Linked DNA regions of Homo sapiens: region 2 is linked to region 1. The links come from fine-mapping of genetic effects on plasma protein levels. A gene starts in region 1. The other region holds a variant in brackets. All regions are shown on one strand. Distances are from middle to middle.

Region 1 (16,058 bases):
ACCTTAGAAGGAATATCTCCATAGGTCTCATGCCACTGGAACCCTAGAAATTTTACCGAGGTAGAAAGTCCCTAAATTTTAGCTGGATTTATTTCCCATCCTCTGGCATACAAATGTCTCACCAATAAGTTCAGTGTGTTTGCTACTTCTTGCTCACTGTATCCAATCATCATAATGTCATGAATGTAATGGACCAGTGTTATATCTCGTGGAAGTGAAAAGCGAGCAAGGTCTCTCCAAATAAGATTATGACACAAAGCTGGAGAGTTGATACACCCCTGAGGTAGGGTGGTAAAGGTATAATGCTGGCCTTGTCAGCTGAAGGCAAATTGCTTCTGGTGGGTCTTATGGACAGGAATGGAGAAAAAGCCACTTGCCAAGCCAATGGCTGCATACCAGGCACCAGGAGATGTGTTAATTTGCTCAAGCAACAAAACCACAACTGGTAGAGCAGCTGCAATTGGAGTCACCACTTGGTTAAGCTTAAAATAATCCACCATCATTTTCCAAGATCCATCTGTCCTCTGCACAGGTCAAATGGGAGAGTTGAACAGGGATGTGGTGGGAATCACCACCCCTGCGTCTTTCAAGTCCTTGATGGTGACACTAATCACTTCAGTCCCTCCAGGGATGGGATATTGTTTTTGATTTTTTTATTTTTCTAGGTAGAGACAGCTCTAATGGCTTCTGTTTGGCCTTTCCCACCATAATAGCCCTCATCCTACCAGTCAGGGAGCCAATGTGGCATTTCTGCCAGCTAATAAGTATGTCTATACAAATTATGCATTTTGGCACTGGGAAAATGACCAGAGGATAAGTCCAGGGACCCACTGGAACCACTGTAAGTCAGAAATGAGCTAAAACTCCATTAATTACCTAACCTCCATAAGCCCCTACTTTAACTGGGGAACCACAATAACGTTTTGGGTACCCTGGAATCAACGTCAGCTCAGAGCCAGTGTCCAGTACTTTCTGAAATGTCTCATTACTTCCCTTTCTCCAGTACACACAGTTACCCTGGTAAAAGGCCAGAGGTCTCCTTAGGGAAGGATGGGAGAAAGAGTAACAGCATAAGTTGTCAGTAGCCTAGTGGTGTCCTTCCTCAAGGGGATCCAGCCTCCCCTTCATTCAGTGGGTTCTGGAACTGTAACAGGTTCGAGTCTGGAAATTGATTGAGGGCCCATGATTCTCTGTTTTTATAATTCAGATTAGTCTTTAGTCCATTCTACCTGGCAGTTTTTTGTTTATATAAATCAAGTAGGAATACAGTAGGTTTCCCATCAATTTCACTTCTAGGAACACCATGATTAATTAGCCAATGCCAGAGCTCTACATGAGTCAGACTATTCTGATGGCTGCTTTGCCTCTGCTGTCTATTATGGTAGTTATGCCCACCTTGCCTTTGATGGTTCAGTGCCAACACTTGGCCCCTGCCACCTCAGGATCCAATTATTCCCATTGTATTTAAATTTTGTAGTTGAGTGACTGTGGTTCCTACTGTTAGATCTGACATACAGAGAAGAGCAATTACGGGCTCTTCAAAAATACAGGTGCTGCTCTCACAAATCTATTTCACAAAGCTTCGGCCAAGGGTGTATCTTCTGGACCCTCCCAGCTGGGATGAGTAGGTCTAAAGTGACTAATCCACTCCACCATCCTAATCTCCCTAAGCCTTTGGATCACTTCCTCTACATTAAACCAAGGCATTTCCAGCTCACTAACATTGGACCATCTTTTAATCCATATTTCAGCTAACCAAGCAAATAAACTATTATAACTTTTTTTTTTTTTTTTTTGGAAATGGAGTCTTGCTCTGTTACCAGGCTGGAATGCAGTGGGGCGATCTTGGCTCACTGCAATCTCTGCCTCACAGGTTCAAGCAGTTCTCTTGCCTCAGCCTCCCAAGTAGATGAGATTACAGTTACGCATCACCATGCCCAGCTAATTTTTGTATTTTTAGCAGAGATGGGGTTTCACCATTTTAGCCAGAATTGTCTCAATCTCCTGATCTCGTGATCTGCCCGCCCCCGCCTCCCAAGGTGCTGGGATTACAGGCGTGAGCCACTGCTCCCGGCCCTATCAGAACCTTTTCTAAGTCCCCGAGCTGCAACATTAAATGCAGAATCCCTACTTAGTAGGGCCAAACCAATAAATTCAGCTTGATCCAACTCTATGTCCCTTCCACCATTATCCCTTACCCTTAATATCCATTCCCATGCCTGTTCTCCAGATTTCTGCCAATATAAATTAGAAAGCTTAAGCAGTTCTTTTAGAGTATAATGCACCTCCTCATGGGTCACACTCTGAACCTCACCTCTGGGGCCCGCAAGGAATTTAGCCTAGTTATAGGTCTAGAAGCATTCAGGGGCATTAGGGGTGCCTCTTGAGGAGAATCAACATTATCTTGCCTGGCAGCTGCCTCAGGGAAGGCCATCACTGTTGCCTCAAGCAGTGCAGGGTTTACATCCTCAGACAAAGGTGGAAAGGCTAATGGCAGCACGGGTCAGGGAGGGGATGTTACCACTACTGGGGATGGGGAAACTGTTTCTTCTGGCAAAAAAGTTTCATCAGAGTTCACAAACTCAGTGTCCTCAGCTTCATCAGGGTTCTCCCACACATCCCCACTCCAAGTTCCAGGGTCCCATTTTTTTCCAGTCAATGCCCTCACTTTAACAGTAAACACCTGGCAAGGCTGTGCATGCACCTCTTGTTGCAGATCAGCTACTCGCATGATAACAGCTTGTCTCTGTTTTTTCACAATTTCAACTCTTTCTCTACAGGAGTTAAAACTCTCATTCAGGGCAATCTTAGCAGATTTGTGGCTCAGTATCTGCTTCTGAAGGTGGGAGACAGATCCCCTGAGATCATCATTTTCTTTCATCTCTTTCTCCAGAGAACTTAGGAGCAATCAACCAACTTCATTATGTTCCTTGGTTCTCCACATATAGTCAAAGGTATTATGTATAGAGTCACTAAACTCCTTGCCTCTCATAAGTGATGAATCAGTAGTGTCAAATGCATTTATTTTGCATAACTCTCTAAACAATTCAGGCCAAGTACTATCAGTGTTCTCCATACTATTAGAAGTAGAGTCCTTAGCATTTTTTGGTCTAATCATATTAATCAGCCAACACCAGAAGTCCCAAAACCAATGAAAGAATTCCATCCTTAATATTCTGTTCCTCAAGAACCACTTCTGGTATGAAAATCTGTATTAGTCGGGGTTCTCTAGAGGGACAGAACTAATAGGAGATTATATATATATATATATGAGAGAGAGAGAGAGAGAGTATATGTATATATGTGTATATATAGTGAGTATACCTATATCTATCTATAGATATAGATATACTCACACAAAGGGGAGCTTATTAAGTGGTATTAACTCACAAGATTACAAGGTCCCATAATAGGCCACCTGCAATCTGAGGAGCAAGGAAGACAGTCCAAGTCCCACAGCTGAAGAACTTGGAGTCCGATGTTCAAGAGCAGGAAGGATCCAGCACAGGAGAAAGATGTAGGCTGGGAGGCTAAGCCAGTCTAGCCTTTTTACATTTTTCTGCCAGCTTTATATTCTGGCTCTACAGCTTGGGGGCAGCAGGGGCAGGGGCCTCAGGGTGCTTGCAGGGATGACACACTGGCCTCTTTTCCATAGGGTGGCTGGGGCACACTGGGGTGTGAGTAAAGCACTCAGGATCTTTTTTCCTTCCCTAGTCCAAGTACAGCAAGGGCAGTATGACTGCAGTGTTAGTGGCAGAAGGACTTTCAGTCACCTCTGGGAGCTTCACCCCACAAAAACACAGAGTGCAGCCAGTGGAAATGTTCAACTGAGTTCGAGGTGCCTGCACTGTGGGCCCAAGCCAGGAGCCTTGCCTGGTGAAGAGTAGCAGGTGAAAGCTCACAAGAAAGAGAAACTGGAATTCTTTCCCTGCTGTGTGCTGGAGGTGTCAGGGAAGTGGCCAGGTCCCTTCTTTCTCAAGCCCAAGGGCATTAACGGTGGTACTGCTGCAGCTGAAATGGCAGAGGGGCTGTGGGTTGTCTCTTGGATTTCCTCCCCAGAGAAGCACAGAGCCAACACTGACTAAAATGTTCAGGCAGGGCCAGGGTGGCTGTGCTCTGCCCAGTGAGGAATAGTAGGGGCAGGGACCAGTGCAGAAAACAGTGTGGCCACTTTTCCATAAGGCAGCTACACTGTGCTGGAGGTCCGTGAGAGTCCTGAAGCTCCTCGCTCCCTCCTGAGCCCATACTTTAATCTCAAGAGTTTGAGATAAACAGTGGTAAGGAAGAAAGTACAACGGGTACGGCTAATGAAACCCAGGAAGATAAGTCAATGCGTAGAAGTAATTCCAACCTAAAGAAATACTTTTTAAAAATCATATTTATAGAGGTTTGCAGTGATACTAAAGACAATATTGCAAATCATTATTAAGAATACAAGAAGTACAATGTTTCTTGTTTCTTTAACACCTGTGATACAGGTGTTTGATATGAATTCTACGTAATGGCTGCATTGCTTCTTGCCACCACCCAAAGAAGGTTGTATAGCACTCAGATGTATACTAACTGCAACCGTGTATCTCTTAGGAATTTCTCCTTTGCCCTCTTCCCTCCCTATCAGCATGTATCTAGCAGCATTCTGAAAAGTTAACTGCACAGTGAGCGACTGCTGGGCATCTTAAGGGGCATTCTTTTCTACCTAGGTATTCCCCCTCCTCCACTCATGTCTAGCATGCAGGACTTGGGTAATCTCTGGGGTTTCAGATTCTCCAGACCTCCATTCTCTCAGGGGCTTCCACCTCCTGCTCATATCTAGCTATCTGCCTAGTCTAACCATAAAATCTTAAATAAGAATAAATCATGTTTGCTCTTGATTGCCATGTCATGATAAAAAAAATAAGACACCATCAGTGGCAACTGTGTTGCCAAGATTGATGTTGATCTGCTAATCCCTGTGTAGAAATGAACCTTGGAGGCCATTGTTTGATTTCTTACAATATGTGCATTGGTTGTAACACTGTCACTTTGACAGTTGATAAGCATCTTCTGAATGGTCCCTCCTTTAGTTACAAAAATGTTGGTGCATGGATGATGTTGGGAATAAATAAAAAGTGAACTAAATTATGTTCTCATCTTGGGCAAAAATTAAGCAAAAAAAAAATGGAGGATATGAAGCTCCTCCACAAAGAAGGCCATTTTTGTACTAGGCTTACTACAGTGACACACCACTATTAGTTGGGGAGAATTCAGTTTTTCCAAGGTGTTGATAGGCATCCAGATTTCAGAGGAAATTGTAAAAAAGCAGAACCTGGGACCAATACTGCCCACGATTTTTCTTTGAGATCAAATCTGAGGCAACAAATCTGTTCAAAAGCTGCTTTCTGCCTGGTTGTGGCAAAGGGTGGCCAAGTGGGGCTCAGCTGTGTTCCCATTGCAAGGCTACTGAGCATCCCCTGTCCTGAGGCTCCTTAGGACACCTGGCTGAGCTTCAGCAGCCCTCTTCCAAGCCTGGAGATGCCAGCTCCATCTCTGGCACAAAATGTAGTGATTTTCACAGGGTGAGAGGCCAAAAGAGGCTAATAAAATGAAGATAGCCAAGCTTCCATGGAATTAAGCAACAGGACAACCTTGACCACTTTGAGGGGTGTGGTGGGGGCCACATGCAGATGGAGTGGGTTAAAGAGTGACTAGAAGAGCAGTGGGGGTGGCAGCAGGAGAGAAGCCTGGCTCTGAAAGCAGCGAGACTTCTAGGGAATACAGGGTCAGGGGAGGTTCTGAAAGATGACACACTGCAGAGAACATGTGTTTGTATGCCGATGACAAGTATCCAGTAGAAAGGCAGATGAACAGATTCTCATTCTCAGAAAGGCCTGTCCTGACCTCCTGAGAGTACACAGACCATGAGGGCAGGGCAAGGAGGAGGATGCACGCTCACTGTTTCATGCAAAGTCCTTGGCCACAGTCCACCTGCTCCCCACCTCTGTGACTTTGTCCTTCCTCAATTTAATATGCTCTATGCTGGAAAACTGGATTATTGAACAGGCATTGGCTGATGCATTCTGAACCTAATCCACTAAAAAGCACTTGATAGATATATCAAAATATCATTGAGAAATAGATATTTTAGGCCCATATCCATGTCTTCACCCCGCACTGTTTCTCATTTGAACTCTCTTTTCCAGGAAGAGTTGTGCTTGGGTAAATTCTATAGCTCACAGTGTGACTTCAAAACACACAATAAATTAATAAGGTGCTTCCTACAGTGAGTTCAGTTAAACATTTTGAAGAGTGTTTTTGAAATGTAGCAGAGCAGGCTACAATTGATATTCAAAAAGAGGAAACTTCCATTTATTTCCCCCTTTAACTAAGTTACCTGTAACTGTGTCATTTTATTATGCTTCATAGAGCATCACTGCTGAGATCCCCTCCCCAGCTCATGTTGCTAGGAAATATCCCAAAACAGAATCAATTTTTCTTTTTTTAACCTGATGATTTTTCCACAATCCTTTTGTTTCTCTGATTCACCTCCAGGGCTCATATGGCAATGGGGATTTAATAGGGTTTATTTGTTGGTGAAGAAACATTAAACAAATCTTTTAATAGGAAAAATACTTTTATATTATAGGCAAAATGTAGATGTATATTGCTACTGAAGTAAATGTATTTTATTAATGGTGTGAGAATTTCTTCCTCACTGTGGTGTGTGAATGTGTATGCATATTTGCATGTGTAAAAGACTTAGCAATTTGTGAATAGAAGATGTTTCTCCGCTTCTCACTGAGCATGGCTGTAAAAGAAACTTTTTCCTCTCCCCGGGCATTCCAGCACACATTGGAAAGATAACACGTCCACAGAAAGCCTGGCTTTCCAAAAGAGCTTATCAGAGAATGTGCCCCCCAGGTCGATTAAAACATATGTTAATCCTGTGGCAGAGAAGTTTGTTCTAGCCTTTGGGTGTAGCCTGCTGAATAAGTTCACAGTGATCTACATCCTAGTTTCCATGGGCTGAAATAGAATATTCATATCCCCTGCACTCCCTACACACACAGACATAGACACCAATTTCCCCAAAAAACTCTTTGCTTAATCTTCTCCTGCTCTGTATTTTCTTTGATATTTTCTTGAATGGCTTCCACTAAATTCAAATGTGTTTGACTTTAAAGTCAACTTGTAAAATTTTATCTGGTAATTTATAGATTAAATTGCAAGCATCTACCTCCCTTTCATCAGACTCTCCCTGCAGGGCAAGTTCATCTAACTATGTATGTGCTTCAAGATGGAACTCCTGAGTTCACAGGTGATTTATAAACCAAAGCATGCCCACTACAAAACTCTCACCCTCCAGAGATTTGCCTCAAGGGACAACACCCTGCTCACAAAGGCACCAGCAGGCAACTGCTCAACTACCTGGTGGATAAGGTGCCCAAGCTAGCATGGACCCCTGAATCCTTGCTCGCCTCCTCTGTTGCCTTTTAAAAGTGCCACTTTCTGCTCCTAAAGTGAAGTAGTACGGCAGGACTGCTGCATTTCTTCCCCTAAGCTAGCTTTGGAAGCAAATCACTTTCTTTATACCAGACTTCTCTCTTCTTAATTGGATTCTGCAAGTGGCAAACAATTAACCTGCTCTTCAGTTACATTGGAATGTGTTTAGATTTATTTTTTCAAATGTTGGAACAAAGATGAAAAAGTGAGAAGAGCCCTAGATTTTTTCTTGGAAATCTGGCTTAAATCCAGGTTTCTTTATTTCCTTGATTTGGGAATTTGGTCACGAGACAAATAACATGATTTTCCTAAGTCTAGATTTCTTTGTTTATAAAATGGGGATGACTATGCTACCCTACCTATACCATGAGCTAAATAAGCTAGTATTTGTAAAGGACACACACTTACATTCACAATCACACACGGTGTGTATGTGTGTATGTATGTATAAAAATGTGGGGACCTAACCCACTCAACAAATACCCTGAGTATTTGTTGAATCATTATATGCGTATATCATCTGGCAAATGGATGTGTATAATTTCTCCAGGGATAAGAAGCAAATGTATACCGATGGAAAGCCTTACTCAGGCCATAACAAAGAGAGAAATGCTGAGTCCCACTCCATGAACAGGTCAAGGAACCAAACATATTCAAAGAGTTATTTCATTGTTTCAACTTGCTAGTGAGGGGAGCATGGCACCTGAACAGAGATGATATAAATTAATGAAACTGAGAACCAAGCGAAGAGCTTAGCCATCCTTTGCATAGTTAGCTACAATGGCTATTTATTTTTCAGCCAGACTGGCCATCATGTAGGCACACTCTTTTAGATTAGAAAAATCAACCATTATTTTTTCTGCCCATTCATTCCAGCACCGTGACAGTCTTCACGGGGAAATTAAACTTATTTTTTTAAGAATTTTTCAATCATATACAAGATTTTGAACTGGGAATTTCATGAATCAAAAATTAAATGAATTGCACATAAAGCCATGGCATATGTATTTTTACTACATTGTGGGAGAAAAAATAATTCTTATAATTTAAAAAAACTATGTCTTACCTGATTTCAGAAATAAAAGAAGTAGAAGAACCACTTCCTTATGTTCCATTTTGGGACTGGCCAGCAGTGCCCAGAAAGTGTGTCCCAATCCCAGGACATTGTTGACTTACATGAGAGTAAACGCACCCACAAACCAGATAGTCAAATTAAGTTAATGATTCTCTCAGAGACCCATGCCACTGGCTCAGCAGGGTTCAAACATTACCTTGAATATAGAGTCTTATAAAATATTTGAGAGTGCAATGTCAATAGATGCTGGGAAGTGGTGAAAGCCATTTCCCCCCTCAGCTGCTCCACATTGCCTTTATGTCTCCTTACTCCTTCCCTCACCCCTAGACCTTCATCTTTCCTGATTAGTCTTGTTTCCTCCCCTCTTCTTTCATTCTCTTTCTTTTGGATAAAATAAAATCATAAAAGTAGCTCATATTTGCTGGTAACTTCCATGACCAGACCCTCTGCCAAGTGCTGCACATCCATAGCCTCCCTCAAGCTTTCCAACAGGCAGTGCTGTACGAGGAGGGGGCTGAGGCCTTCCCGAGGTTGTGTCGCTACCCAGGGGTGCAGCTGATAGACACAACCCTTTCAGGTCTTAGTTTACGAGCAAGCTAGGTATAAATGTTAACATCTCCACATCCTATACCAAACTGTGCCGAAATGACAACATAAGTGAAAATCTTTTATTATCTTCAAAATTTATTTATTCCTAGTGAACTCACATGTTTTCTGTAATTATAAATTATGTTATAAGATATCAATCCTTCCAGGAGGGGGTGGTGGCTCATGCCTATAATCCCAGCATTTTGGGAGGCCACGGCAGATGGATCACCTGAGGCCAGGAGTTTGAGACAAGCCTGGGCAACATGCCAAAACCCTGTCTCTACAAAAAATACAAAAATTAGCTGGGTGTGGAGGCACATGCCAGTCATCCCAGCTACTAAGTAGGCTGAGGCACTAGAATTGCTTGAACACAGGAGATGGAGGTTGCAGTGAGCCAAGAATGTGCCACTGCACTCCAGCCTGGGTGACAGAGCAAGAATGTCTCAGGAAAGAAAAAAAAATAATAAATACCAAATAAAATTAATAAAATATCAATCCTTCCTATTCTAGTAGTTGTGGCTTAAATAAATAAATAAATATTTTTAAAAATAAAACATAGGGTCGAGTGCGGTGGCTCAACTCTGTAATCCCAGCACTTTGGGAGGCCAAGACAGGTGGATCACAAGGTCAGGAGTTTGAGACCAGCCAGGCCAATGTGGTGAAACCCCATCTCTACTAAAAATACAAAAATTAGCCAGGCGTGGTGGTGGGCACCTGTAATCCCAGCTACTAGGGAGGCTGGAGTATTCACTTGAACCCAGGAGGTGGAAGTTGCAGTGAGCCAAAATCACGTCAGTGCACTTCAACCGGGGTGAGAGTCTCAATAAAATAAAATAAAATAAAATAAAATAAAATAAAATAAAATAAAAGCATAGTATCAATCTTTCCGCAAATGAATTCATGGTGCAATCTTACATTTTCGTTCTCATGAAGTAAAGCAAGAGTGGTAGAATTAAGTGGAAAGAGTCTATCTCTAGTGTAGTCACGTCAGTGGTTGTGTCAAGATGGTTAGGAGGCTCCTCCCGTTTAAAACAGTATCCAAGCCCCAGTTGTAAATCAATTGGGGAGACACGCCAACTCTGATCATCAGCAATATCTGAGCTCCAGTCTCAGATATTGTGTGCAGTTAGTCTCTGTCCTGTACCCTCTACCTCCTTCCCTACCAGAAAAATCACCACTTTAGTCCCTGGCCACCGGGACACCCCAGGAGGGTGAGTGGTCTGAGGTAGTTATGGCACTTATGGCTCCCTTGCTGCTGATCTGGAACTCAAGCCCCAAGAAGTCCCCTTGGATGATCTGAATATACATTTGGGACAGATCTAGGGAGTTTCTGAGCAACACTTAGACTGGGGTCTTCCATTGATTAAATCCTACTTGAATTCGCTACTTTGGGACTCAAGTCTAAGGGACTGAGACTGAGACAGGAGAGCACAAGACTAACTTTGGTCTCTTGATCTTTTCTTACCTTGCAACTGTCAATGCCTCCAGCCAAATGCCCAGCACAGAGCTCAGTGGATTTGACTCTTCCATTCAGAAACTCATAGCGATTGCACACTTCATTCTCAATCACAGGGAGCTGGGCTTCCTTGAGAAAGCCAGCCCCAAAGGTACCTGTGTTTAAAAAGATGAAAGAAATGGTAACTACGTCCACAACATGTTCACAAGGAAACTCCAGAAGAACAGAGCAGTGGTGATGGACCTCCTGTCTGTCCGTGAGGCTGTAGAACACAAGGCAGCTCCCAATGCTGCCAGACTCTCTGAACCCTGGAGAGTGTAAACGTCATATAAGAGTCTATGTTCCAAAAACCTGGATTTAACAATCTGAGCTTTGTCATGGTGCTTTGCGGTTGGTTGTTGTTTCTTTACCTTTTTCTTTGCTTTTAAAACCATAAAGAATAATGTTTAAATGTAGAGTCTGAGAAATGCAATTGCTATTGTTTTTATATTTTCAGACTTTTTGTATGCTTCTTTCACTAATTACATCATATCACAAAATTTCACACCCTGATTTTTTCACTCAACATTACATAATGAGTTTTGTATAGTGCTATGATCTTCATAACTAATATTTTAAAGGAGAGCTACTGATTAATGAGCATGAGGTTTCCTTTGGGGATGAGGAAAATATTCTGGAAATATGATGATGGTTGCACACCACTGTGAATGTACTAAATGCCACTTGGTGGTACCCTGCAAAAATGGTTAAAATAGTAACTCTTACGCTGTGTACATTTTATTGCAATAAAAAAGAATAGTCATCATTTACTAAGCATTATCCTTTCCAGGCACAAGCTTATAATGTGGTGTATCTCACTTCATCCTCACAACAGTCCTATGAAACAGGCAGTTCCATCACTCCTGCTCTACAGTTAAGGAAACTGAGGTGTAAGGAGGTTGTCTAGTTCAACCTGAGCCTGGGTCTGCGGAGTCACTGCCCAAATGCTTCCTCCCCGTGCGCGTTGGCCCCCCTCTTGCTTCCAACCCTCCACATCTTTGTTCATAAAGTTCATTCTTATTCCTTAATATTTTCTGAGCCTAAGTTCCCATAAATTATATAGACATATTTCTGTCTCCCAATAACACTGCCAATTTATTTTCTAGAAGGTTATGACAGTGTAAAATGTCACTAGAAAACAATCACTTCACCACACTTGTATGAGTGTTCAATTTTTAAATATTAGCTAATCTAACAGGTTGAAATTGTCCTGATTCATTTTCTAATTTATACTTCTTTGACAATTTGGGAGAGTGAAGATTCTCCTGGTTGTGTTTATTCTTTTGTGAAAAACTGCTTTATTTTCTTTGCCAAATTCAAATAGAACGGTTGCAAAATTGCCAGAGGAAATGCTGTTTTTCCAGATGGACACACCCAGGGATGTTTCAGTGTTCTCACAAATAATCCAGTTTTCTAATTTTGCAAGCCCAGCTTTCATTAGAATTTTGCAAAAATCCTTGCTTTGCGAGCATGGCACAGGCAAGAGATGAGGCACTCTCTCTTTCTTCCCCCAGAGCCTTTGACTGCACTTAGATCATTGACTTTGGTTCAGAAACCTGACTGCATCTGGAGTTGACATGAGCAGCATGGAAGATGTTTGTCCCAGCACCTCACTCCAGAGGCCAGCTCAGCTCAATCTGGGCAGAGCTGCATGATGGAAGTTTCTGACTACCAAGCATCGGGCAGAGGGTGCATCACCTGGACTACATAGTTGTGTGAGGGAGCACCGTTCTCTAGAATCTGCTATTTGAGCAAGGCAAACATCCTGATAATGGTGAAAACCTACCGCAAGTTGCCAGGAAAGTTGATGTGGTCTGCGAGTAGGTGCTGCCATCCAGTGGCCGACATAGAGATGTCATCTCTGAGGGCAGGTAGGCCACAGGTGACAAGAGGATTGAAGCCCTCCCTGATGGGGCCTTGGGGAGAGGGCAGCAGGGTAAGTCCAGCGGCAGGATCAGTCCATTGATTGTGGATGACGACTGACCTGGAAAATCCCCTTGGCCTCAACACCTCCAAACTCTGCATTTGATCCAAGTCAGGGAACACCTGGAAACATGAAGGGGAGAGCAGGAAAACTTTGACCTCCCTCTCAGAGGCTGAGAACGCCAATTGACCTGATGTCATTATTGACATGTAGAAAATTGATGAACAGGCCTGAGTTATGTTTTGTGGCACCTCATGGTCTAGTTAGTGTTCTGAGAATCATTTTCTCAGTGGACCTGCAGGTGAGACCAGGCGAGGCAGAAGCCTAGTGGGGGATGGTGGTTAGAAATGTGTGGATGGTTGTGGGGCAGAAGAAACAGCAAGTAGGCTCTGGGCCAGCTACAAACTGGTTATATGATGTCTACTGATGATGATAGTGATGGTGGTGGTGGTGGTGATGGTGGTGGTGGTAATAATTGTGATGGTGGTGGAATGATGATGATGGTGGTGGTGGGTAGTAATGATGGTGTTGGTGATGGTGGTAGTGGTCGTGGTGATGGTGATAGTGATAGTGATGGTGGTGGTAATGATAATGCTAATGGTGGTGGTAATGATAATGATTATCATGATGATAGCGGTGGTGATGGTGATGGTGATGATAATGGTGATGGTGGTAGAATGATGATGATGGTGATGGTGGTGGTGGTGGTAGTAATGATGATGGTGGTGGTGATGATGTTGAGGGTGATGATAATAGTGACAGTGGTGGTGGTAATGATAATGGTGATGGTGGAATGATGGTGATGGTGGTGGAATGATGATGGTGGTGCTGAGTAGTAATGATGGTGATGGTGGTGGTGGCTGTGGTGATGATGGTGGTGGTAGTGGTAGTAACGATGATGGTGGTGGTGATGATAGTGATGATGGTGATGATGTTGAGGGTGATGATAATAGTGATAGCGGTGGTGGTAATGATAATGGTGATGGTGGCGGTGGTGATGATGTTGATGAAGATGATAATGGGAGTGGTGGTGGCAATGTGGATGGTGATGATGATGTTGACGATGATGATGCTCATCACAATCACCTTATATGTTAGTACAGGTAAGAAAGCCAAGGCTAAAAGAGATTAAATAACTGCCCAATGTCACATGGAAGATGGTAGAGCCAGAATTCACACCCAGATCCTTATGATTTTAGCTTGGTGCTTTCATCAGTTGAGGTATTGGAGAGGATCTGTTTGCTTTCTGGCTGCCCAGCAGTCTATCACCCTACATCCCATAATCCTGTTGAGGGATCCACCCTTTGCCCTTCTGGGTATGAGTGGGGTCCTGCCTCCACCTCTAGCATGTAATAGCTGATGCAGGTTGGAGCCAATCAGTGATGGGTTCAGGGACAGGCCTGTGACCCAAGTTCAACCTCTCAGACCTGGCCAACTATTGTTCACTTAATGGGGACAGTGGCCTTCCTCAGTCTTTCCTGGCAAAGCAAGAGCTGCCACAGCATCTGCCACCACAAGAATCTCACCTTTGTGCCCAAGGATGATGCCTACTGCATGGCTGGACAGGGCCTGGGCCCTGGGGCCATCATGTGAGCCTAAAGACTTTTCAGCTCAACAAGAATTCCCCTTTTTTGCTTAATCCATCTTAAGTTGGATTTTCTGTCACTTGCAAGAAAGAGTCATGTTAGATACAACTCTATTCTGTATATTAGTAGGAGCTGCCATGATGGAGTGCGTAGCACGTGCTCGACACTTGATGCACATTCTTATTGTTTCTCCCCCGACAACCCTGCAGCCCCCATTTCATATAAGAAAACAATCAATGAGAGTTCATGACTTTTCTAAGTCCCGACAGCCAGTAAGTGGGAACCAGGGTTCCAATTCAGGTCTCCCTGTGCCATCCTGCACCTTCTCTGAGCCTCAGGTTCCTCACTTGTAAAATAGGAACAATAATATCTAAGTCTTAGAGGTTTGCAGCATTTAAATTTTTATAAGTGCAAAACACTGGGAGCAGCCTGGCACACCCAAAGGTGTTCCTCTTTTGCCAAGTTTCCTTTTAGTTGGCCTCAGTGTTCCCAGACTCAGGAGTGCAGAAAGGGGGATCAAGAAACCAAGGAGGATGACATTTTAAAAATAGTAGAAAAAGCACAGAAAAAGGAAAGCAAACTTTGCAATTATCTAGACCAGTGGTTTTTAACCTTTTTGTTAAACAAAAAACAAACAAACAAAAACCTTTCTTCAAATGACAGCTTATGCAAAAGGCTGATGTGGAAAACACCACTTGAAAATGCTGGTTTTACAAATGAGGGGTTGGAGTCAAGTCATACAAAGAGTTAACGTGCCTAGTCCAGGTCTGTCTGGCTAGTGGCAGAGTCAGAACGCTTTTCTAGGGCTCCAGACTCATAATGTCCTCACCAGCACCTCTGAGAAAGTCAGCAGAGTCAGAACGCTTTTCTAGGTTCCAGACTCATAATGTCCTCACCAGCACCTCTGAGAAAGTCAGGCAGAGATCCCAAAACAGTCTTAGTGTTCCAGTGGTCAAGGGGGTAAGTCTGATAGATATAATTATTGTCAGGGCATACTGAAAAATGAAGAAGGAATCCCTAAGATGTAGTCCAGGTGCTGATACCACATCCTGCACAGATGTTCCCTCTCTTTCTCTCACCCATCAACCAATACCAAATACTATCCTAGATTTGGGGCCATGGGGCCTGTCTGCCTCTCCCTTAGCTGCAGGTCCCCTGCCTAACACCCTCCCACACACATTAGACATGTGGATTTGGTAAGAAGGCTAGTTTATTATAACTTTTGTCATTATTGTTTTACATCATGTTTAGAAATACAATCTGGCTAATTTCACATAAAAAATAATCTAACACCCTTAAGGGCTGGGTGAAAACCCCACTTACCTGAGGAAGCAATATGAATGCTGGAGTTATGAATTCAGAGACTCAAAGACCTTTACTGGTTTTCTGCTTGTTTTAGGTATAAAGGAAATACACAATCATTAAAATAAAAAATGGATCACACCCCAAAACTTCAACAGCAAAACTATTTTGCTAACATGCCCCACTATGAAACCAAAGACAAGAAGTCAGCTACAAATAAAGACCCTGTACAAGGCCTTGGCCCTGTGAAAACCTCCAAAGAAGAAGTCTATTGGCTGTACTCAATCTACACTGCAGTTAAAGAAACACCCACACAGAGACATGAGAAAGAACCAACGTAAGAACTCCAATAAATCAAATGGCCAGAAGGTCATATGTCCTCCAAACAACTGCACCAGTTTTCCAACAAGGGTTCTTAACAAGACTGAGCTAACTCAAATGACAGAAATATAATTCAGACTACGGATACAAATGAAGATCATCAAGATTTAGCACAATGGCAAAATCCAATTCAAGGAAATTAAAAATCACAATAAAATAATATAGAGGCTGAAAGATTAAATTGCTGGTATAAAAAAAGAACCTAACGGATCTGACAGAGCTGAGAGC
Region 2 (16,058 bases), 74 kb before region 1:
TGCTACCTGTATTGAAAATAAATTGACCATATATGTAAATTTATGCTGACCCTTTTCTGTTTTTGTTTGCATATGTTTTGCCCAATACTATGTATTTTTTGTTTGTTTGTTTGAGAGAGAGAGGGAAGGTTTTAATCTGTCTCCCAGGCTAAAGTTCAGTAGCACAATCATGGCTCATTTCAGCCTCCACCTCATGGGCTCCAGTGATCCTCCCACCTCAGCTTCCTGAATAGCTGGGACTACAGGCACATGGCACCAAACCTGGCTAATTTTTTTAAATATTTGTAGAGATGAGGGTCTTGCTATGTTGCCCAGGCTTGTCTGCAACTCCTCATCTCAGGCAATCCTCTCATCTTGGCCTCCCAAAGTGTTAGGATTACAGCCAAGCGTCCCAGCCAATACCACATGTCTTGATTACTGTGTCTTTATGAGAATTTCCATATTACCATATGCATCTATCCCACAAACTTGTGATTTTATTCCAAGTTTTTTATTCTTTTTAAAGATTGTCTTGGTGATTCTAGCATATACATTCTGTTAGGTTTTCAAGAAAAGACTGCAGGAATTCTGCTTGGGTGTGGGTTGAAACTAAAGATCAGTTTTGTGAAAAGTGACATTGGATTTTTTAATCTATAAGCATGATGTGTCTTTATTTAGATCTTCTAATTTTCTTCTCACCAATGTTATGTAGTATACATGGTATAGTTCTTTTGCATATTGTGTTAAATTTATCAATAAAGTTTTTTTGTTTTGATAGTATTTTGTGGTTTTGATGCCAATTCCCATATGGTATTATTTTTCTTCTACTTACATAGCATTCTTTCACATCTTTTATTACATAATCCTGCTGATGAAACATTCTTTTATTTGTTCTTTGTTTTTAGGAGGACAGAATATGTACTTACGTAACATTCATTTTCAGTGGAATTGTTTGCTGTGCATAGCGTTTAAGCTTGCTGGGTTTTTTTCCTTCTTTTCACTCTAAAGGTGTTATTCCATTGTTTCTGACTTGATCTTTTTTTTTCTTCTTAGCATATTATTCCATTTTTTCTGACCTGATCTTTTCTTCTTCTTACTACTCTAAAGGTGTTATTTCATTGTTTCTGATTTTATCTTGTTTTCCTTCTTACCACTCTGAAGGCGTTATTCTGTTGTTCCTGATTTGATCTTTTTTTCTTTCTTACACTCTAAAGGTGTTATTCCATTGTTTCTGATTTGATCTTGTTTTCCTCCTTACCACTCTAAACGTGTTATTTTGTTGTTTCTGATTTGATCTTTTTTTCTTCTTACCACTCTAAAGGTGTTATTCTATTGTTTCTGATTTGTGTTGTTTCTGATGAGAAGGCATCAGTCATTTGTGTCACTGTTACTCTATGTAAAGGTATGTTTTTTCCCTTGGGCTTCAAATAAGATTTTACTTTCTATCTTTGATTATGGACAATTTAATTATGATGTGTCCAAATAAATCATACAGCTTTACTTTTTAAAATCCTATATCTGATCCATTGAGCTTCTTGACTATGTGAGTTTATCATTTTTTCCATATTTAGAAAGTCATCAGCCATCACTGCTTCAAGTATTTTTTCTGTTCCAATATCTCTTTCCCTTCCTCTGTGACTTGCTTTAAACAAATATTAAATATTTTGATATTTTCATAGATGTCCTTGAGGCTCTGTTTATCTTCTCAGGCTTTGTATAAGCGTGCTATGGTTTGCACCACCCTAATATTTTCTAGTTAGCTTTATCATCTGTACTATCTAATATGATTATAAGGCCATGTAGTGATTTTCTCATTAAAGAGATGTCTTTTTTTTCAGTTCTTGACTCTCCATTTGGTCCTTTTACAATTTTTCTTTCTGTTGATATTATCCATTTATTTATTTCTTGTCCACGCTTTCTTTAAATCCTTGAACACAATTATGATACATACATTTTAAATCTCCTTGCCAATTCTGTTATTTTTATCATTTTTGGGTCTATTTGTATTGACTGATTTTTCTCCTGGTTATGGGTCACACTAAATGCTTTTTGTATGTTTAGCAAATTTTTAAATGTATGCCACACATTGTGCATACTATATAATTGAGCAATTTAATTTTGTTGTTTACCTCTGAAGAGGTTGTTTTCTTCTGACAGGCAATTAATTTACTTGGAGATCATTTGGATCTTTTTAGACTTGGTTTCTAAGCTTTTCTAGGGTGTTTCTGGAGTAGACTTTATTCTAGGAATGCATTAATTCTACTCCTGAAGTATGGTTTTTTGGGGTCTTTGCTGAATGCCCAAGATGTTCAATGAAGTGTCTCTCCTCAGGCTGGTCAGAGCTCAAATACCTCCCAGTGCTATGTGAGCTCTGGCATCTTCATTGAGCTCACTGTTCCCCAGCAGTTGTTCTTTCCCCAGTAGCTGTTCTTTGTTCTCCTTTCTCTCTGGAAACTCTTTCTGTGCATACACAGCTTTCTGTTCAGCCAGAGACTTGAAGAGACTTCTGTGTGTATTCCTGGAGCTCCTTTTCTCCACAAATACTTTCTCATTATTACCTAACCTAGAAAATCTCGGTTTTATTAGTAAACAAAACTCCAGTCTCTCTCCCCAGTTTAGCAAGACTGCTGTGGAATGCTTTGGTTAAAACTCTTTGCCCTTAAGTCTAGGAAGGGTAATTATGGGGTTGATCTTATTTGTTTCCCTTTCTAAACTATCTCAGGTTGTACTGTCTGCTGTTCAACATGTGCAAACAGTTTTTCCATATTATTCATACTCACTTATGGCAAGAGGCCAGTTTTTGTCAGACATGCATTTTTTTGTCCATGTACCTGCCCATTTTAATCACCACATCTGTTTACTTCCTGACTCTCATCTGCATTCCTGCTTTTACTCTGCCTGACAACCCATATCCCTTCAGAAAACTGGTGCTTAGAACCCAGTGTGTTCATACAGGCTAGTACTCATATATAAATATATGCACTCATTTCTATTTTCTTCTTCTTCTTCTTCTTCTTCTTCTTCTTCTTCTTCTTCTTCTTCTTCTTCTTCTTCTTCTTCTTCCTCCTCCTCCTCCTCCTCCTCTTCCTCTTCCTCTTCTTCTTCTTCTTCTTCTTCCTCTTCTTCTTCTTCCTCTTCTTCTTTTCTTCTTCTTCTTCTTTTTTTTTTTTTTTGAGATTGAGTCTTGCTCTGTCACCCAGGCTGGAGTGCAGTGGCATGTTCTCGGCTCACAGCAAACTCTGAATCCCAGGCTCAAGTGTTTCTCCTGCCTCAGCCTCCCAAGTAGTTGGAATTACAGGTACCCACCACCATGACCGGCTAATTTTTTAATTTTTCGTAGAGATGGGGTTTTGCCATGTTAGCCAGGCTGGTCTTGAACTCCTGACCTCTGGTGATCTGCCCGTCTTGTCCTCCCAAAGTGTTGGGATCACAGGCCTGAGCCACTGCACCCAGCCTGAATTTGTTACTTCTGATTCGTGTCAAAAATGGCAAACACAAATTTCACTTCAGGGAATGGAGGATAGAATGATAGAATTGCATGGTTGAAAGACTGCATGGACCTTTAGTGGGCATTGTGGAATGATACTTTGTCTCAGCATTTGGTCATTTGATCTCCTTAGCTTTACATTAATGAGACTTCACCACCTCCATATATCCTGCTGCTTCCATCAAATTGTTATGAAAGATAGCAATCCTAAAACTTCTCTTCATTCAGACCTTTTGCTCAAAAGTAAGTTTCCTGAGACATTTTGCTACAAACTCTGAGTCTATGAGAAATTTGGACCTAGGAAGTGAGCTTGTAGCATGGGCCAGCTAAGAGAAATTTTAGTTGACTATTGTTCCTTTTATGGCTAACATGATAGACATACGCATTTGGATAGTATAATGGGATCCTCCGATGCCAATGTGGTGTCATAGACGACCAAGACTGACATGTTCTTCCTGTGATAGTGGTGGAGAGTGTGCCTCGATAACTCTGTCCATCACCTCGGTAGCAGTCCTGGACCCCAGTGCTGTTTTCAGTTGGTGCTGAAATTAAAAGAGAAAATCAAGCTCAGTATTGCCTAGAAAAGGGAAATGTGAAAAAAATTATGACACACAAAGTGGAATAATCTGAGGATTAACAATTTACACTCTTCTATATTAGCATGCAAATTGAAATGTAGAATAAAAATACAAATAGACTTATAGGATTCTAGAAATTTAATAAGTAGTCATAAATATTTTAATTCAACCCTGGAAAACAAACAAACAAAGAAACAAACAAAAAACAGATCAGAGTGCCTATACTTCAAAATTACACTCATGTGAATGGTCTTTTGCTTACACCTCTTCTGGGTGTTCATGAGAACAAGGCAGGAGACCAGGGTGCCATGCATCAAGCTGTTCAGGCTATAGGTGGTGATTGGCTGTTAGTGGGGGGTATACATGAAACCCTTGCACACTAGACCACTGCTCCTCCAAAGCAAAAGCCTTCAGATTCTGGGGTGTGGGGCAGAAAAGGATCTTGCATCTAGGACTTGTAGGTAAAGACACATTGCCTCTCAGGGAGAAGGAGTACAGGCCAAAATTTTATAGCCTAGGAGGGGAGACAGGGAATCTTGGGCCCAGGATCCCTCATTACAAGAAAGCTGACATCCACTACTCTTCTTCTCAAAAAACAACGGAGATAAATGTTCCATGAGAAGCAGGGATGAGAACACTGAGAAATCCCTTCCCTCAAATCCTAGGTGTGGAAGGCATGCCCAAGATGAAGGTAGGCTGGGGAGATAAACAATTTGGTGGCTATGTACTGCTTCAAAGTCTCAGGACAATACGGATCTAATGAAGACATGTTAGGTTTCTCAAGAACAACAGCCTCAAAAATGGCATTCCTTCAAAATGGTAAAGCTGAAGACTGCAATAAACACTGCCTACTTGAAGAAAGGGCTGGACAGGCTTAGGAGCTTGGTATATCTTCACAAGTTTGGCAGGATGTTAGAATATCCATCTTGGCTAGGACACTAATATGATTCGTTTGATAACAGGGAAGTGATAAATCCAGTGTCCTAGAGGGTCTGTGCCCCTTTTAAAGACACCATCCCTCACAAGGCACTCAACATCCCAGCTCTGGTCCCCCCAGAGAAGGCACTGAAGCTTCCTTCCCATTGGCTGTCCATGACTTCACCTTCGACTTCCTGTGCAGCATGGAAGTTTTCTGCATCACAAAGATTTTGCAAATCTTTTTATCCCAATGTCCGAGGGTATGGTTGTCTGACTGCAGGCTTCTTACCTTCTTCAGAAGGAAGCTCTGTGCTTGGAACTGGGACCACCGTGGGAGTTGTGAGGAGAGTTGATTCCATCACTGGACATTGCGTCAGGTTGCAGTACTCCCATCTGACACTGGGATCCATGGTATAACACCAAGGGCGAATCTCAGCATCTGGATTCCTGCAGTAGTTCCTGGTCAGGCCACTGCAAATTCCAAAACAATACAGGTCACCAGAGATTGGAGAAGATACAGCACCACCTGGCACCCTCTATGTTTTCTTGTAACAAAGTGTAAACAAGCAAATTTGAAATATTCTCACTAAAGTCCCATAACACTCACAAATGGTCCTCAACTTCTAAACAACTGTCAACATTTCAAAGACAGCTTATGATTCTTATTGTAACACATTCAAAGTAATCTATGCTTTATAAGAAAACTGAGAGAAAACATCAATGTGTACCAGAAAGGATCAGAATACCCTCCTTCTACCTTCTGCCAAATACATTCCTTTGGATTAACCGAGAGGGATTTTGAAGTGTGTCTTGGAGATTGTTTCACGTACATACAAATGTTTATCTGTCAGGCTGTCTGTAAGTCTCTATAAAACTGCATGATCTATTCAGTGTTTGATTTGCTGATTTGTTATTTACCTAAGCAATCCATCCACATGATCTACATTCATGAATTTATTTACATACAGTTGATCTCAATATCTACTTCTCAGCTTTCACACCTGGAGGATGCTATAGCAATGGCATCTCTCTCCTGTTACTCATGATGGTGATGGATATGCTCCCTCCTTGGTCTGTCATCTGTTTAGCCAGACTTTGGCCAATCATATAGACTTTTCAAAGAACCTAACTTTCTGTTTCATGGATTTACTCCTTTGTTGGTCTATTTTCTTTTCCACTGAATGTCATTGGTTTGGACTATTTCCTTCCATCCTCTTTCCTTGTGCCTTATTTGCTTTTCCTTGCCTAGATATTTAAGCTGTGGTCTTAGATCAACAGCTGTCAAAGCTGTTGTTCATAGGAACCCCCTTTTTTTCTTTTTAGCTTTGAATTGAGGCAACTTAACTATGATATATCCCAGTAAATCATAGAGTTTTGCTCTTTAAAATTCTATACCTGAGTCATTTAGCTTCTTGACTATGAGTTTCTTGTTTTCTGTATATTTGGCGTGTTGCGAGCCATCATCGCTTCAAGTATAATGTCTGTCATGATATCTTTTTCTTCTCCTTCTGTGACTTGCCTAACACATATATTAAATGTGTGGATTTTTCCTAGATGCCCTTGAGGCTCTGTTGATTAATAGGTTCAGTCTTTGTGTGTGTGTGTGTGTGTGTGTGTGTGTGTGTGTGTGTGTGTGTGTGTTTCTGTCTGTTGGTCTGTCTGTCTGTCCTGTGATTTGTGTAGCTCCTATTGAATTATTTTCTAGGTCACCTTTCCTACCGTAATGTCTAAAGTGATGATAAGGCCATCCAGTGAGTTCTTCATTAGAGATGTACCTTTTCTCAGTTCTTTAATTTTCATTTGGCTCTCCGGTTCTTTTCTTTTCTCTTGCTATTCTGCTTTTGTTTCTCTCATGGTCAGCTTTTGCTGACATTTTCCTGAAACACAGTTCTCAGAGGTGCATTTTAAATGTTCTCACCAATGTCATCAATTCTATAATTTCTGGGCCTGTTTGTGTTGAGTGATTTTTTCTCCCAGTTATGTATCACAGTGAAAGCTTCTTGTGTCTCTATTAAATTTTTAAATAGAAGTAACGCAATAGGAATGCCATATAACTGAGCAACTTGTATTTGTCCCTTGCCTCTAAGGGGGGTTGAGTTTTTTTTTTCTTGTGGAATGCAGTTAATTTACTTGGAGATCATTTGGATCCTTTTAGACTGGCTTGGAAGAAGGGTTGTTGGAGTTTTTCTGGAGTCACCTTGATTCTAGGAATAAGATGATCCCAATCCCAAAATACAGCTTTCTTTGGTCTCTACTGAATGCCCAAAATGTAGTGAGGTGTTTCTCCTCTGAGTGGTCAGAATTCAAATATCCCCCAGTGCTATGTGAGCTCTGGCATCTCCATTGAGCTTACTGTTCCCCTGCAGTTGTTCTTTCCCAAGTAGCTTTTCTTTGTTGTTCTTTCTTTATGAAAACTCTCCCTGTGCATACGCAGCTTTGTATTTAGCCAAAGCCTTGAGGAGACTTCTGTGTGTATTCCTGGAGCTCCTTTCTTCCACAAATCCCTTCTCATTCTTAGCCAGCCTAGAACACATCAGCTGCCTGAGGCATCGCAGACTCCAGTCTCTCTCCTCAGTTAAGCAAGACTGCTGTGGTCAGCTGGGCTCCATCTGCTTGTCCTTCAATCCAACACTGTGTCCAGGAAGGAAGACAGGTTAATGATGAAGTTGATCTCCTTTGATTCCCTTTCTCAGTTCTCTCAAGCCTACCATATCTGTTGTCCAACCTGTGAAAACTGTTTTCTCATGTATTTGATAGTCCTTCATGGCAGAAAGGCTGGCATAGCCAGACATGGGTTTCTGTCCATCTTCCTGAATGTGTAACTCTTCAGCATCTCTATACTTCCTGACTCTCAGCTGCCTTCCTCCTTTTGCCCCTCATGGGCTGGCAACACATAGCTTTTCAGACACCTTGTTCTCAGAACCCAATGTGTTTATACAGGTTAGAGGAGAAAGTGAT[C/T]GGAAGATCTCGAAGTCAATATAGATATCCTTCACTTGTTACCCAAGACAAACATGGCAAACACAACCTTCACTCCAGGGCTTGGAGATTAGAATGACAGAATTCCCTGGTTGAACTATTTCACTGGTCTTTAGTGGGCATTGTGGAATGGTGCTATTTCTAAGCACATGGTCATATGTTCTTCTGAGCTTTCTATTCATGAGACCTCACCACCTCCAAGTATCCTCCTACTTCTATCAACTATGAGAAAAGAGAGCTGGCCTGACATTTCTCTCCTCTCAGACCCTGTGCCCAAAGCAAGAAGCCTGAGACATTCTGTCCAACATTCTGGGTCTGAGAGAAATTGGGTCATAAGAAGTTAGCTGGAAGCATGGCTCTTCCAGGAGAAATTTAAGTGGGTGGCTGTTTCTCTTGGGAGAAAACTCAAAGACATACCCATTTGGGTAGTATTCTGTGGTTCTCTGATGCCAGTGTGGTGTCATAGAGGACCAAGACTGACATGTCCTTCCTGTAACAGTGGTGGAGAATGAGCCTCGATAACTCTGTCCATCACCATGGTAGCAGTCCTGGACTGTGGGGCTTTGCTCCGTTGGTGCTGAAATTCAAAGAGGAGAAAACAAACTGAGTAATTTCCAGAACACAGAAGCATGAGAAAAAAAATCCATGATAGAAACAGGACATCATCTCTGAAAATGACGACCATGCTCTGTTCTACATTAGTAGGCAGATGGACATGCCAATAACAAAGCTCAAAGATTCATAGCATTCTGGAACTTCAATGAGTTTTTAGAAAGATTTTCTTTAAAACCTGGGCACCAAAGGACAGATCAGAGTGCCTATCAGTCAAAATTGCACTCATGTGCCTGTTCTTTGGCAAAGATCTCTTTTGGGTGTTCCTGAGAACAAGGCAGGAGACCAGAGTGCCATGCATCAGGCGGTGCAGGCTGTAGGTGGTGGTTGTCAGTGGGGGCAGACATGAAACCGTCACACATTTCTCCAGAGCACTGATCCTCCAAAGCCAAAGCCTTAAGTTTCTGGAAGATGGGGCAGGAAGTGGTCCTCCATCTAGGACTTCCAGGCAAAGACACATTGTCTCTCAGAGAGGGGTACTGGCCAAAATTTTATTCCCTTGGAGGGACGGCGGGAAATCTTGGGCCCAGGATCCTGCATTGCAACAAAGTAGACATCCACTACTCTTCTTCACAAACAGCAACACAGATACGTGTTCCATGAGAAGGAGGGGCAAGAACACTAAGAAATCCCTTCCATCAAAGCCTAGGTGTGCAGCACCTGCCTAAGATTAAGGTAGACAGGGAGATAGAGCATTTGCTGGCTATGTACTGTTACCTAGACCCAGGAGGATATGGAACTAAGTAAAGTCATATCAGGTTTCTCAAGGATGACAGACTCAAAAACCACATTCCTCTGAAACTGTAAAGCTGAAGTTTGCAATGAGTACTGTCTACTTGAAGAAATACCAGGAAAGGCTCATGATGAGCTTGGTAAATCATCACAAATTTGGCAGGATGTTAGAATATCCATTTTCACTAGGACACTGAAATAATCTATTGAATAACCAGGGGAGTGGTAAATCCAGTGCCCTAGAAGGTCTGCACGCTTCCTAAAGACACCACCCTGTCACGGGGTGCCAAAAATCTCAGCCCTGGTTCCCCCAGAGAAGGCGCTGAGGCTTCCTTCCCATTGGCTGACCCTGAGTCCACATTCAGATTCCCGTGCAGCATGGAAGGCTTCTGTATCACTAAGATTTTGCAACTCTTTTTATCCCAACGTCCAAGGGTGTGGTTGTCTGGCCAGAGACTTCTTACCTTGTTCAGAAACAGCCGTGGACGTCGCAAGGACACTTGATTCTGTCACTGGACATTGTGTCAGGTTGCAGTACTCCCATCTGACATTGGGATCCATGGTATAACACCAAGGACTAATCTCAGCATCTGGATTCCTGCAGTAGTTCCTGGTCAGGCCACTGCAAATTACAAAACAATACAGTTCACCAGAGATGGGAGAAGATACAAGGGCACCAGACATCCTCTACATTTTGTTGTAACAAAGTGGTAAAAAGTGACTTTGAAATATTCTCACTAAAGGTCCTGTAACAATCACAAATCGTCCTCAACTTCTAAACAACTGTGAACATTTCAAAGACAGATTATCATTCTTATTGTAACACATCCAAACTCGTCTATACTCCATAAGAAAACCGAGAGAAAACATCAATGTGTACAAGAAAGGATCAGAATACCCTCCTTCCACCTTCTGCCAAATATGTTACTTTGGATTAACTGAGAGATTTTGAAGTGAGTCTTGTAGATTGTTTTATGCACGTACAAATGTTTCTCTGTCTGGCTATCTGTATGTCTTTCTATAGGAGTACCCAATCTATTCAGTATCTGGTTTGCTGATTTGTTGTTTACCTAAGGAATTGATCCACATGATCTACATTCATGAATTTATTCACATACAGTTTTTCTTGATATCTTCTTGTCAGCTTTCAGACCTGGAGTATGGTATAGCAATGGCTCCTCTCCCCTGTTACTTCAAATGGTGATGGTTGTACTCCCTCCTTGGTCTGTCATCTGTTCAGCCAGACTGTGGTCAATCACATGAATCTTTTCAAAGAACCAACTTTCTGTTTCATGGATTTACTCCTTTGTTGGTCTATTTTCTTGTTCACTGAATGTCATTGGTTTGGACTATTTCCATCCATCCCCTTTCCTTGTGTCTTATTTGCTTTTCCTTGCCTAGATATTTAAGCTGTGGTCTTAGATCAACTGTCAAAATGTTTGTTCATAGGAACCCCCTTTTTTTCTTCTTAGCTTTGAAATCAGACAATTTAACTATGATGTACCCCAGTAAATCAGAGTTTTGCTCTTTAAAAATCTATACCTGAGTCATTGAGCTTCATGACTATGAATTTCTCATTTTCTGTATGTTTGGAAATTTGTCAGCCGTCATGGCTTCAAGTATAACTTCTGTCACATTATCTTTTTCCTCTCTTTCTGTGACTTGCCTAACACATATATTAAATGTGTGGATGTTTTCCTAGATGTCCTTGAGGCTCTGTTGATTAATTGGTTCAGTCATTGTGTGTATGTGTATTTGTGTCTGTCTGTCTGTCTTGTGGTTTGTCTAGCTTTAATTGAATCATTTTCTCGTTCACCTTTTCCTACCATAATATCTAAACTGGTTATAAGGCCATCCAGTGAATTCCTCATTACAGATATAACTTTTCTCAGTTTTTAAATTTCCATTTGGCTCTTCAATTCTTTTCTTTTCTGATATTATGCATTCATTTCTCTCATGGTCAGCTTTTGCTGACATTTTCCTGAAACACAGTTCTCAGAGGTGCATTTTAAATGTTCTTGCCAATGCCATAATTTCTATTATTTCTGGGCCTATTTGTGTTGAGTGATTTTTCTCCCAGTTATGGATCACAGTGAAAACTTCTTTTGTGTCTAGTAAATTTTTAAATGCAAGTTGCACTCTGGGGATGTCATATAACTGAGAAACTTGTATTCGTTCCTTACCTCTAAGGAGGGTTGAGTTTACTTTTTTCTGGAAGGCAGTTAATTTACTTGGAAATCATTTGGATCCTTTTAGACTGGCTTGGAAGAAGGGTTGCTGGAGTGTTTCTGGAGTCACCTTATTTCTAGGAATCCGAAGATCCTACTCCCAAATTATGGCTTTCTTTGACCTCTACTGAATGCCCAAGATGTTCAGTGAGGTGTCTCTCCTCTGAGTGGTCAGAACTCAAATATCCCCCAGTGCTATGTGAGCTCTAGCATCTCCATTGAGCTCACTGTTCCCTTGCAGTTGTTCTTTCCCCAGTAGCTTTTCTTTATTGTTCTTTCTTTGTGAAAACTCTCCTTGTGCATACGCAGCTTTGTATTTAGCCAAAGCCTTGAGAAGACTTCGGTGTGTATTCTTGGAGCTCCTTTCCTCCACAAATCCCCTCTCATTCTTAGCCAGCCTAGAATACGTCAGATGCCTGAGGCATCACAAACTCCAGTCTCTCTCCTCAGTTAAGCAAGACTGCTGTGGTCAGCTGGGCTCCATCTGCTTGCCCTTCAAGGGTCTCAAGGAAGGATGCCAGGGACATGATAAGGTTGATCTCCTTTGATTCCCTTTCTGAATTTTCTCAGGCCTGTCATGTCTGTTGTCCAACCTATGAAAACACTTTTCCTATGTATTTGATAGTCCTTCATGGCAGAAACGCTGACGTGGTCTGAACTGGGTTTCTGTCCATCTTCCTGCATGTGTAACTCTTCAGAATCTTTATACTTCCTGACTCTCAGCTGCCTTCCTACTTTTGCCCCTCATGTGCTGGCAACACATAGCTCTTCAGATACCTTGTTCTCAGAACCCAGGTACAGGTTAGAGGAGAAAGTGATTGGAAGATCTGGATGTCAACATAGATATCCTTTATTTGTTGCCCAAGATGAACATGGCTAATACAACCTTCACTTCAGGACTTGGAGATTAGAATGACAGAAATCCCTGGTTGAACTATTGCATTGGTCTTTAGTGGGCATTGTGGAATGGTGCTATTTCTAAGCACGTGGCCATGTGTCCTGAGCTTTCTATTCATGAGAACTCACCACCTTCAAATATCCTCCTGCTTCTGTCAACTATGAGAAAAGAGAGCTGGCCTGACATTTCTCTCCTTTCAGACACTGTGCCTGAAGAAAGAAGCCTGAGACATTCTACCCAACATTCCAGATCTGAGATAAATTTGTCATAAGAAGTTAGTTGGAAGCATGGCCCTTCCAAGAGAAATGTAAGGGGGCTGCTGTCTGTCTTTGAAGAAAACTCAAGGTTGTACCCATTTGGATAATATTCTGTTGTCCTCTGATGCCAGTGTGGTGTCATAGAGGACCAAGACTGACATGTCCTTCCTGTGACAGTGGTAGAGAATGAGCCTCGATAACTCTGTCCATCACCATGGTAGCAATCCTGGACCCCGGGGCTTTGCTCCGTTGGTGCTGAAATTCAAAGAGGAGAAATCAAGCTGAGTAATTTCTAGAACACAGAAGCATCAGAAGAAATCTGTGACTGAAACAGGATCATTGTCTCTGAGAAAGACTACCATGCTCTGTTCTGTACTAGCAGGCAGATGGACATACCAATAATAAAACCCAAAGATTCATAGCATTCTAGAACTTTAACGAGTTCTTAGAAAGATTTCCTTTAAAACACAGGCACCAAAGGAAAGATCAGAGTGCCTATCAGTCAAAATTGCACTCATGTGCATGCTCTTTAATATAGACATCTTCTGGGTGTTCCTGAGAATAAGGCAGGAAACTAGACTGCTATGCATCAGGCTGTGCAGGTTGTAGGTGGTGATTGACTGTCAGTGGGGACAGACATGAAACCGTCACACATTTCCCTAGACTGCTGATCCTCCAAAGCCAAAGCCTTCAGCTTCTTGAAGATGGGGCAGGAAGCGGTCCTGCATCTAGGACTCGTAGGCAAAGACAAATTGTCTCTCAGAGAGGGCTACTGGCCAAAATTTTATTCCCTTGGAGGGATGGCTGGTATCTTTGGCCCAGGATTCTGCATTGCAACAAAGTAGATATCCACTACTCTTCTTCTCAGAGACCAACACAGATATATGTTCCATGAGAAGGAGGGGCAAGAACACTGAGAGATCCCTCCCATCAAAGCCTAGTTGTGCAGGACTGGCTTAAGATGGAGATAGGCCAGAACGATGGAGCATTTGTTGGCTATGTACTGCTACCTGGACCCAGAAGTATATGGAACTAAGAAAAGTCATATTAGGTTTCTCAAGGATGACAGACTCAAAAACCGCATTCCTCCGAAACCGCAAAGCCAAAGATGCAATGAACACTGACTACTTGAAGAAATACCATGAAAGGCTTATCATGAGCTTGGTAAATCTTCACAAATTTGGCAAAATGTTAGAATATTCTTCTGGCTAAGACACTAAAATGATCCTTTGAATAACCAGGGGAGTGGTAAGTCCAGTGCCCTAGAGGGTCTGCACCCTTCCTATAGATACCACCCTTTCACAGGGTACCAAACATCACAGCTCTGGTTCTCCCAGAGAAGGCGCTGAGTGTTCCTTCCCAGTGGCTGACCCTGAGTCCACATTCTACTTGGAATTGTGTGAGCATGGAAGGCTTCTATATCACTAAGATTTTGCAACTCTTTTCATCCCAACGTCCTAGGGTGTGGTTGTCTGGCCATAGACTTCCTACCTTCTTCAGAAGAAGCCTCTGTGCTTGGATCTGGGACCACCGTGAGAGTTGCAAGGACACTTGATTCTGTCACCAGGCATTGTGTCAGGTTGCAGTACTCCCACCTGACACTGGGATCCATGGTGTAACACCAAGGGCGAATCTCAGCATCTGGATTCCTGCAGTAGTTCCTGGTCAGGCCACTGCAAATTTCAAAACAACACAGGTCACCAGAGATGGGAGAAGATTCAAGGGCACTTAGCGCCCTCTACATTTTGCTGTAACAAAGTGTAAAAAGAGACTTTGAAATATTTTCACTAAAGGTCCCATAATATGCACAAATGGTCCTCAACTTCTAAACAACTGCGAACATCTCAAAGACAAATTATCATTCATATTGTAACACATCCAAAGTCATCTGTGCTCCATAAGAAAATTGAGAGTAAACATCAATGTTTACTCTGTACATTGTGCAAGTTGCACTTGTACTTGTACAACTTCAATTGTACTTGTACAATTATACTCTGTACATTGTACAATGTTGTACAATGTACAAGAGGATCAGAATACCCTCCTTCCACCTTCTGTGAAATATGTTCCTCCAGATTAACTGAGATTGATTTTGAAGTGTGTCTTGTAGATTGTTTTATGCACATACAAATATTTCTCTGTCAGCCTCTCTGTATGTCTCTCTACAGGACTACACTAACTATTCAGCATCTGGTTTGCTGATTTGTTGTCTTCCTCAGGAATTGGCCCACATGATTAACATTCCTGAATTTATTCACATACAATTGTTCTCAAAATCTTCTTTTCAGCTTTCAGAACTGGAAGATGCTATAGTAATGGCACCTCTCCTCTGTTACTCCAGATGGTGATGGTTGTGCACCCTCATTGGTCTGTCATTTGTTTAGCCAGACTGTGTTCAATCATATGGATCTTTTCAAAGAATCAACTTTCTGTTTCAAGAGTTTACTCCCTTGTTGGTCTCTTTTCTTGTTCACTGAATGTCACTGGTTTGGACTACTTCCTTCCATCTGCTTTCCTTGGCTCTTATTTGCTTTTTTTTTTTTTCTTGTGTAGATATTTAAGCTGTGGTCTTAGATCAACAACTGTCAAAGTCTTTGTTCATAGGGGATTCCAAAGAGCTTTTCTTTTTCAAAACACAAGATGAATATTTATAGTATAAGAAACCAACACTGAGAATTTTTTTAACACACAAAGTCAACAATTGCCCATTTTCTTAGCCATCAGAGACATGATGCCATTACATATTATGTAACTGCTGGAAAACTCCCCTCTTCTCTTGTTGGAAAATGAAAGTAAAAAGGGCCAATAGCATCTTACTTTTCACGTAGCAAAGTCCTTTAACCTCATGGACTGTCTCTGAAGGTACTCAAAGGTCCTCAGGTTTCTCTAGACTACACTTTGAGAATTGCAGTTTGAAATCTTGATTATTACATGCTTCTGTTTTTCCCTAAGAGCATCTAAAATTATGTAAAAGCCTAAAGACATTCACTGCATCTCCTAAGTTTGGATAAATTGTGTTATATTCTTACTCAGTTCAAAACTTTTCTAAATTCCTTAGTGATGTTTTCTTTGTCCCAAAGAGTATTTTGAAATGCACCGTATGACTCCCAAATATTTGAGAAGCTGGCAAACTTCTCATTATTCATATCTCACTTTATTCTGGGAGAATAAAGTGACACACTCTGTATGACTTTAATTCTTTTAAATCTATGGAGACTTGCTGGAAGGTCATGTGTAGAGTACACCTCAGTGAATGCTCCATGCACACTTTAATGTGTACTCGGTAGTTCGGTATAATGTTAAATAGGTCGACGTTTTTATTGAGAACAAAGATACTATGTCTAATTTTCTGCATATTTGTTCTAGCCTGTTGTGTTTGGGAAAGATTTATAA

Direction of the effects. Positions count from the first base shown, and alleles are read on the strand shown. Strength reflects both the effect of a copy and how common the allele is.
As copies of T replace C in region 2, the plasma level of the protein whose gene starts at base 8,655 in region 1 goes up (moderate association).

The links. PIP is the posterior inclusion probability: the model's chance that the variant is causal. The UK Biobank Pharma Proteomics Project read protein levels with antibody pairs (Olink). The fine-mapping took linkage between variants from a reference panel, not from the people measured, so its PIPs are less certain.
Region 2: its variant is fine-mapped to the plasma level of the LPA protein (UK Biobank, PIP above 0.99).

The regions. Positions count from the first base shown.
Region 1 is chr6:160,655,621-160,671,678 of GRCh38, forward strand. It overlaps LPA (lipoprotein(a)), which reads right to left and starts at 8,655. Exons shown (of 39, transcript NM_005577.4): 1 at 8,546-8,655. The coding sequence starts at 8,594.
Region 2 is chr6:160,581,198-160,597,255 of GRCh38, forward strand. It overlaps LPA (lipoprotein(a)), which reads right to left. Exons shown (of 39, transcript NM_005577.4): 21 at 14,157-14,338; 22 at 12,761-12,920; 23 at 9,747-9,904; 24 at 8,356-8,515; 25 at 5,252-5,433; 26 at 3,849-4,008. Among named protein-coding and RNA genes, the nearest start is that of LPA, 75 kb to the right of the region's middle. The variant C/T (reference allele first, on the strand shown) is at 7,921.